2 linked regions of the Homo sapiens genome follow. The protein of the gene in region 2 purifies or fractionates together with the protein of the main gene of each other region. This does not show direct contact. Each region holds a gene or a part of one and is shown on either strand. Other genes may lie near its edges.

Region 1 (4,055 bases), on a different chromosome or scaffold from region 2:
TAATGAAGATGTTTAGCACGTAGACAGAGGTGGTGTTTGCACAATGTGCATGTCTAAATGCCATTAAATCACACATTTTAAAATGGTTAATTTTATGCTATGGGAATTTCACCTCGACTTAATATATACTCAATCCCGTCCAGCCGACACACCTTTGGCTCAGGCCTAGGCCACTCTGCCATCTGCCAAGTGTGGCTTGTGTAACAGACAACTTCTCTGGGCCTCAAAGAGGGTGAAGAAATCCATCCTCCCCACAGGGGTATCTCCAGAATCCAACGAGATGAAGTGAGGTGAAAGCGCTCTGAAGGGCAGGAAGCTCTGCTGACACAAAATGTTTACCCATAACACGTGGCTTAGAGTCCCTTACCCTCTAGCTTGGCGGGAGAGAGAAGTCTGCTCTCCCTACCCCACGCCCCATCCCCTGCTCATCCCCTGCCAGCCACCCACCACACCCTTCACGCAGAGAAGTATAGAGCCACAGGGGGAGGGCGCCATTCTCTCTCTCCCTCCCTACTCAGGAATCTCCCTGAAGCTTTGACAAAGCCCCCTTGACACCCCGCATTCAATCTTATTTTTATTTTTTTTTATTAACTCTGTCACCTAGGCTGGAGTGCAGTGACCTGATCTCAGCTCACTGCAACCTCCGCCTCCTGGGCTCAAGCGATTCTCCTGCCTCAGCCTCTCAAAATGCTGGAATTACAGGCGTGAGCCACCATGCCCAGCCATTCAATCTTTTCTTTCCCAGATTCTCACCTCCAATCACAAGATGAAGGCAGGGAGCTCACAGCCCTGTGAGGGGCTGGGGAGAATGGCAGGGGTGGGCCAGAGTTATTAAAAGCCCAACTGATGTTCAGATTTATTTTGACCCTCCCCTATACCCCCACATCCAATTTCACTCTAGTAGGAATCAAGACAGGGGAGAGAGGGATTCCAAGCTGACTTAGGGAGAGGAAAATACATACATACGTAAAGCATTTGCCACAGGCCCCACCTGAGCTAAGCACTTTCCCTCCCTCAACAGCTCCTTTAATTCTCAAAGCATCCCTTTTAGTAGATAATAGACCCCACTTTGCAGAGGAGAGCACTGAGGCTGAGGAAAGAGGTAAATTCATTCAGCGGGTGAGGGAGGAGCTGGGATTTTAATGCTGGCAGTATGACCTCCCCGCCACTGGCACACCGGGTCTTTTGCTGGGACATCCCCTGTAACCGGATTGGGGGAATGCAGGAAAAACCCCATCCCTCCCTACAGAGCCTCAGCAGTGACAGCTACTTCCCGGATGAGAAGGGCGGCCGTGAAGCCAGCAGGGAAGCCAGCCCCACAGCCAAGGGCCCCCCAGCCTCCTCACAGCTCCCCATAGCCTGGACCTGCCGGCCCTCCCTCCAGGACCGAGGGGCTCCCAAGGGAAACTCAGGTGAGTGTCGCCCTCTCCCAGGGAAGATGGGAATCAGGGCTTGGAGACAACTGGCTATCCTGCATGATCCACAGGTTTTCCTAGGGATGAATCAGATTGTGTGGTGTGCGTGTGTGTGTGTGTGTTCCACACTCACGGTCCAAATAACAAGACAGAAAAAGAGCAATAAAGATCTGTGCAAAAGGGCTGAGGAATGAAGTGCCAGGAGAGAGGTGGAGGTTGGAGACCACCTAGGAATGGTGGGTGTGGGGGGATTGAGGGGGTTGTTGAGGGGGAACTGGCTGGGGGTGGGGAGAAATGTTGGTGGACACCAACAGTCCTGGCCTCTTCCAGCTGAAACCCCTTAAGAAAGTATCTCTGCTCTTGGGTCAGAGCTAGCAAGTGAGTTGTGTATTATTTATTCACAGTTTGAAAGCTAAACTTCCCTTTCTTGCCTTAGCCCCAGAATCTTTCCCCAAAGCCCCCGACTCCCTCTGGCCTCTACCTTGAGGACACAAGGCTCTCGAGGTCTGCTTTCCCTTCCAACCCTCCCTTCATCCCAATAGGCGTGTGCTGGTCCCAATGTCAGTGAAACCCAGCTGGGGGCCTGGCCCCTCGGAGGGGGTCACCGCAGTGCCTACCAGTGACCTTGGAGAGATCCACAACTGGACCGAGCTGCTTGACCTCTTCAACCACACTTTGTCTGAGTGCCACGTGGAGCTCAGCCAGAGCACCAAGCGCGTGGTCCTCTTTGCCCTCTACCTGGCCATGTTTGTGGTTGGGCTGGTGGAGAACCTCCTGGTGATATGCGTCAACTGGCGCGGCTCAGGCCGGGCAGGGCTGATGAACCTCTACATCCTCAACATGGCCATCGCGGACCTGGGCATTGTCCTGTCTCTGCCCGTGTGGATGCTGGAGGTCACGCTGGACTACACCTGGCTCTGGGGCAGCTTCTCCTGCCGCTTCACTCACTACTTCTACTTTGTCAACATGTATAGCAGCATCTTCTTCCTGGTGTGCCTCAGTGTCGACCGCTATGTCACCCTCACCAGCGCCTCCCCCTCCTGGCAGCGTTACCAGCACCGAGTGCGGCGGGCCATGTGTGCAGGCATCTGGGTCCTCTCGGCCATCATCCCGCTGCCTGAGGTGGTCCACATCCAGCTGGTGGAGGGCCCTGAGCCCATGTGCCTCTTCATGGCACCTTTTGAAACGTACAGCACCTGGGCCCTGGCGGTGGCCCTGTCCACCACCATCCTGGGCTTCCTGCTGCCCTTCCCTCTCATCACAGTCTTCAATGTGCTGACAGCCTGCCGGCTGCGGCAGCCAGGACAACCCAAGAGCCGGCGCCACTGCCTGCTGCTGTGCGCCTACGTGGCCGTCTTTGTCATGTGCTGGCTGCCCTATCATGTGACCCTGCTGCTGCTCACACTGCATGGGACCCACATCTCCCTCCACTGCCACCTGGTCCACCTGCTCTACTTCTTCTATGATGTCATTGACTGCTTCTCCATGCTGCACTGTGTCATCAACCCCATCCTTTACAACTTTCTCAGCCCACACTTCCGGGGCCGGCTCCTGAATGCTGTAGTCCATTACCTTCCTAAGGACCAGACCAAGGCGGGCACATGCGCCTCCTCTTCCTCCTGTTCCACCCAGCATTCCATCATCATCACCAAGGGTGATAGCCAGCCTGCTGCAGCAGCCCCCCACCCTGAGCCAAGCCTGAGCTTTCAGGCACACCATTTGCTTCCAAATACTTCCCCCATCTCTCCCACTCAGCCTCTTACACCCAGCTGAGGTAGAGGCCAGACTCCTCCAACAGTGAAGGAAAAGGCACAGGTGAGAGTATAGGTGGGAGATTTGGGGGGATGTAGAGGGGAGGGTCAAAGCACTCGTGGTCAATTTTGAATCTATCTTAAAATACTGAGGTGTGGAGAGAGAGACAGGATCAGGAGCGATAGAGAGCAGGCCCTCAGTGTTGTACTATTTGTCTCGGTCCTTGTGTCTAAGGAGCAATGCAGAAAAAAAGGTGAAATAAATGGAAGAGATAGCCATGGACTCTGGATCTTTTAAAAATCTGCACTTCCAGCTGGGATTGGGAAGGGAGCTGAGGCTAAAGAGGTGCTCGGCAGAGGAAACTAGACACATTCATTTCATAAATCACTCTGGCTGGAAACAGTGAACTCTGCAGGAACCTCACAAAACTCCTTTTGCGTTTGTGAGCTTGTTGATCTTCCAGCTCACTATGCAGGTTATGGGGACAAGAGGCCAGAGGCCAAGGAACCAGGCGGCCCCAGCAGGACGTTCCCTAGCTGTGCATCCTATGCACAGCCATGATAAGTGAAGGCGGATGGGGATGGCAGGGGTGGGGGCGAAGCCAAGGTCTGAGACCTGCACCCTGCAGCTGGGTCAGCAGGATGGTATCTCCACCCGCGGCCATCCAGGAAACACAGCTCCATTTCCTTGCTGACACCCTCCCCTCCCCGTTGTCCATCCTGCTCCCTCCCCACAAGCAAGAGGAGTTGTCCCAGAGTCAGCTCCTCATAGCTGACCTCTTACCAGCTTCGGATCTAGGAAACTTCCAGACTTCTAGGGAGACACAGAGCTACCAGAAAGCCCAACCCACCCCCATCTCTTTCTCTCCAGATCATAGGAAAGTATCAA
Region 2 (4,373 bases):
CCTGCCCAAAAGGAGGCTATGCCTAGGCAGCACACGGTACTGGAAATCACCTGATGCAGAAAGAATTCTTACCTTGTCAGGGCATTTTCCTTGTGACATGCCAGGTGCTTAGAATATGCTTTTCAGTCCTTTCACCACATAATCGAATGAAATGCGCAGGCAGACTGGGTCTTGTTTTCTAACTGGCATTACACAGTTCCCTGGATTCAACCAGGCTCTGGTGAGGAAACAGACCTGTTGACACTGTTGGGAGGAGTGCAGTGCTTCAAGTGGCTACTTGGTCCCCTTCAGCCAACTGGGTCACACTTGCTCCTGTGGTCATATGGCTTCCCCTCCGTCCCTGGTTCTTTCTTGTCACCACGTCCATTTGGTCCCCTTCAGCCAACTGGGTTGCACTTGCTGCTGCGGTCATATGGCTTCCCCTTGGCCCCTGGTTCACACTCACCACCAGTGAACCTCCAGTTCTGGAATACCCCAGAGGCAGATGGTGTATGTATCTAGGTAACAGCAGCAACAAAAGCAACTGAAAAGCTTTTGAAAAAAATTTTATATTTGCTACTTTTTAAAAGATAGCTTCTTTGAAATAATCACCATGGAAGAGTCAAAATGGTGTTGGACTTTTCGTATGCATGTTGTACAGTTATGTGGTTTTTGTTAGTGAAAAAAGAAACTCAAACTTGGGGAGGCTGAGGCAGCAGAATCACTTGAACCTGGGAGGCAGAGGTTGCAGTGAGCCGAGATCACGCCACTGTACTCCAGCCTGGGTGACAGAGCAAGACTCTTTCTCAAAAAATAAATAAATAAACAAAAGAAACTCAAACTGACAAAAGATCCAAGAACAGTGCAGTAAATTCCTATATTGTCCTTCACCTTGATTTACCAGTTGTTAACATTTTGCCACATTTGCTTTCTCCCCCTATATATAACATACAGATACATACATATATACAGATATAGTTATATGTACTATATATTATAATTATTACTGTTATTTTGTTGAACCATTTGAGAGTAGGTCAAAGACATTGTGAGCTTTCATTCCTAAACACTTCAGCCTGTATTTCCGAAGAACAAGGGCATTCTCTTATGTAATCACAATGCGGTTTTCCAATCTAAGAAATTTAACGTTGATACAGTGCTATTACAGTTGGAGCATTTCTAATCTGAAAATGGAAAATGCTCCAAAATCTGGAATTTTTTGAGTTCCAAAATGACACAAGTGGAAAATACCACACATAAGTACTTAATATAAATTTAGTTTCATGCACAAAATTATTAAAAACATTGTATAAAATTATCTTCAGTCTATGTATATAAGATGTATGTGAAACAAATGAATTTAATGTTTAGACTTGGATCCCATCCCCAAGATATCTTGTTATATATATATGTAAATATTCCAAAATCTGAAAAAAATCCTAAATCCAAACCAATTCTGTTCTCAACCAATTTCAGATAAGGGATATTCAACTTGTATGGAATATACAGCCCACGTTCAAATTTTGCCATTTGTCACAATTCAAGTTGTGAGTTGCTTTTATTTTATTTTATTTTTTTATTTTTCTTTTTTGAGACAGAGTTTTGCTCTTGCGCCCAGGCTCGAGTGCAGTGGCATGATCTTGGCTGACTACAACCTCTGACCCCCAGGTTCAAGCAATTCTCCTGCCTTAGCCTCCCAAGTAGCTGGGATTATAGGCGCCCGCCACCATGCCTGGCTAATTTTTGTATTTTTAGTAGAGATGGGGTTTCGTCACGTTGGCCAGGCTGGTCTTGAACTCTTGACCTCAGGTGATCCACCCGCCTCGGCCTCCCAAAGTGCTAGGATTACAGGTGTGAGCCACTGCGCCCGGCAGAGTTGCTTTTAAGTATTTATTGGCAGGAAGAAATAGGGAGGTAGGTTCCCAAGGTCATACCTTGCACCAGCTTTCATTTGCTTTTTTATTTTAGGTTTCTGTCTGCTGGTCCTCCACTAGAGCACCCTCAACGAATAATCCTGAGACTGCTGAGGGAGCTGGGGCTTGAGTATCCTGCAGTGTTTGCATTGTTGTGAATGTTCAAGTAACAAGTCACACAGTCGATGTATTTTCCGGTGTGGACATTTAATATAAGGATATGTTTTTGTTTTTAAAGACTTCAACATTATTAGGTAGATTCTTTTACTATCGTACAAAAAATCAGCCGGTCTGCATGTATTACTAGTTTTAATAATACACTTTGGCCCCTGGACCAGAGATAACGTCCTCAATTAAAACTACAAATCACACCACTGCCTTAGCACCAGGGGGCAGAGTCGGGCTTGCTGAGACACTGGAGTGGGGAGTTTTTTAACCCGGTGTGCCATATTTGGGTTTAAATTATTTCACTCCTGATAGAAATGTGCTCACTAGTGAAATTGGTAATAAGTTTATCCTGATTTGTTTACATAGTTAAACCCCTGACTTCTGCCATTTCCCTTTTCCTGAGGTTTATATACATTTGCTCTTTTCCAAAGATAGGGAAATAGAAGCTTACTGTCAACCTCAATCAAGATGCACTGCTAAATCGTGAGGGACTCGTTTCTGTTTTCCTTTTAGAGTATTCTGCATTCACAGATAAAGTGTCTTTGTGTTACATCATGAATTTACATAAGACTGCTTTGGCCTTAGAGTATTTATAAAACATTAATGGATTAAAGAACCAGGGGATGTAGATAGGATGCTAATACCTGGTTATCATTTGGTAGGAACTGGCTCAGCAAAGTGGTTTAAATTTCCTGACCAAGCCAAACTACAGAGGTGTTTGCATTAGGACAAGGATTATAAAGAGATTATGGTCTATTTAAAATAAATCTTCAGCCTTGCTTCAGCCTCATTAGCAATTAGCAAGAAAGTGTGAAGACAGGGATTTCTTTCTTTTCATTTGGTTCTCCGTTGCATCATAAGAGGTTAGAACCCAATTAGGCATTCGGTCCTTGCCACCAAAAGTCAGCTTCCTTTGATGCTTGGCAGTCTGCCAGCTTCTTTTGCCTTGCAGTACCTGCCTCTGGACAATGTGTTTGGTACACCAGGATGTCTGATTTTATGAAATCTCTAAGTCTAGAATGCTTTCTGATAGTGATTTTTTAAAACTCAAATCTTCCCTCTTCCATAGTATCAGAAAATAGACCTTTTAGTTAGATACAGAAAATTAATTCTATTTTTGTTCCTGCCAAGACTGATGACTGTGGGCTTTTACATGTTGGTATCTTCCAAGAGCATGTTCGAGACATCCATACTTTGAGACTTACATGTCTATAGGATGGTGGGGCTCAGTTCTACAATGATTTAATGTCTTAAGAAATGAGGACACCTTTTGTGTTATTTCAGAAAGTCTAACACTTTAGAGGCTCCATAATATCCACTCTAAATGGAAGAAATCTTTTGATATATCTTGAGAGAATCTTGGTTGCCATTCATCCGCTACTTTTCAGAGAGGAGCAGTGAAACCATCAGGCCGCTTGTTGCCTGGAATAGGCCTGAGTATCCTATGTGTTCTCTCCATCCCTCTTAGACTTGGATATCAGGATTCCCATAATCCCCATTGCCCAGTGTTTTATTTGCCACAGCAAAACTTAGTATTGATAAAACTATCAGGTCGGTCATTTAGGATTGACTTTCTGTCACATGACTAGAGAAGCAAGTTCAATGAATATTAGATTTGGCCAAACCCTGTTTCTTGTACCGTTACGTTTGTGTAACTTTATGAGAATCCAGAGGCCAAAGTAAAGAAAATGGCCTGATACTAAATAAGAGCTAAATGTGGATTTAAAGAAACACTGTCAGCCTGATTAAAACAAAGGTCCGATTATGACATTTCATTACTATAATTTAGTGGTAAACGTCCTTTGGCTCTAAGGCTTTCTCCTGAAAAGCTGTCATTTGTTTGTCAAGATACTTAAAATAATAACTCTTTGTTTTTACAGACCTTGGGTTTATTCTAAACCACTTAGAAAAATGTGTCAGAGTGCTTCAAGCCCACAGATATGAAATGCCCAATTTCTCTTGGCCCTTGCCTGTTGGACATCTCCAAAGAGACTGGCTTAGTTGCTGTCGCTACAATGTGCTAATTGGCGCAGCACCTGCAATCAATTAGGGAAGCTTCAATTATCCAAACCAAAGCCACCCACCCAAAGATTAATTTTCTGCTCTATTTCCTATCAAAAACATAGCATATTTAGCTCTGAGTCTAGTCCTTTGGTGGAGTGCATTTTAGACATATAAACTACATCGTTTTCTTAATTGTACTTGTTCCTTCAATTCAGCAGCTTTCCCCTCGTGATATCACGCCCACCAGTTCTTTCAAAATTGTTCTTTTTTTGTTGTTGTTTTCTTGTCTTTCCAAAATGCTGAGATCAC

Evidence for each region.
Region 1: the proteins of SMIM20 (region 2) and ACKR5 purify together in Homo sapiens (co-immunoprecipitation; one large-scale study listed by IntAct). This does not show direct contact.

The regions. Positions count from the first base shown.
Region 1 is NC_000012.12:56,993,237-56,997,291, forward strand, and holds the start of ACKR5 (G-protein coupled receptor 182), read left to right. Parts: upstream 1-1,255; 5' UTR 1,256-1,412; intron 1,413-1,957; 5' UTR 1,958-1,973; coding exon 1,974-3,188; 3' UTR 3,189-4,055. UniProt on the Homo sapiens protein: Orphan receptor.
Region 2 is NC_000004.12:25,923,685-25,928,057, forward strand, and holds part of SMIM20 (small integral membrane protein 20), read left to right. Parts: intron 1-4,373.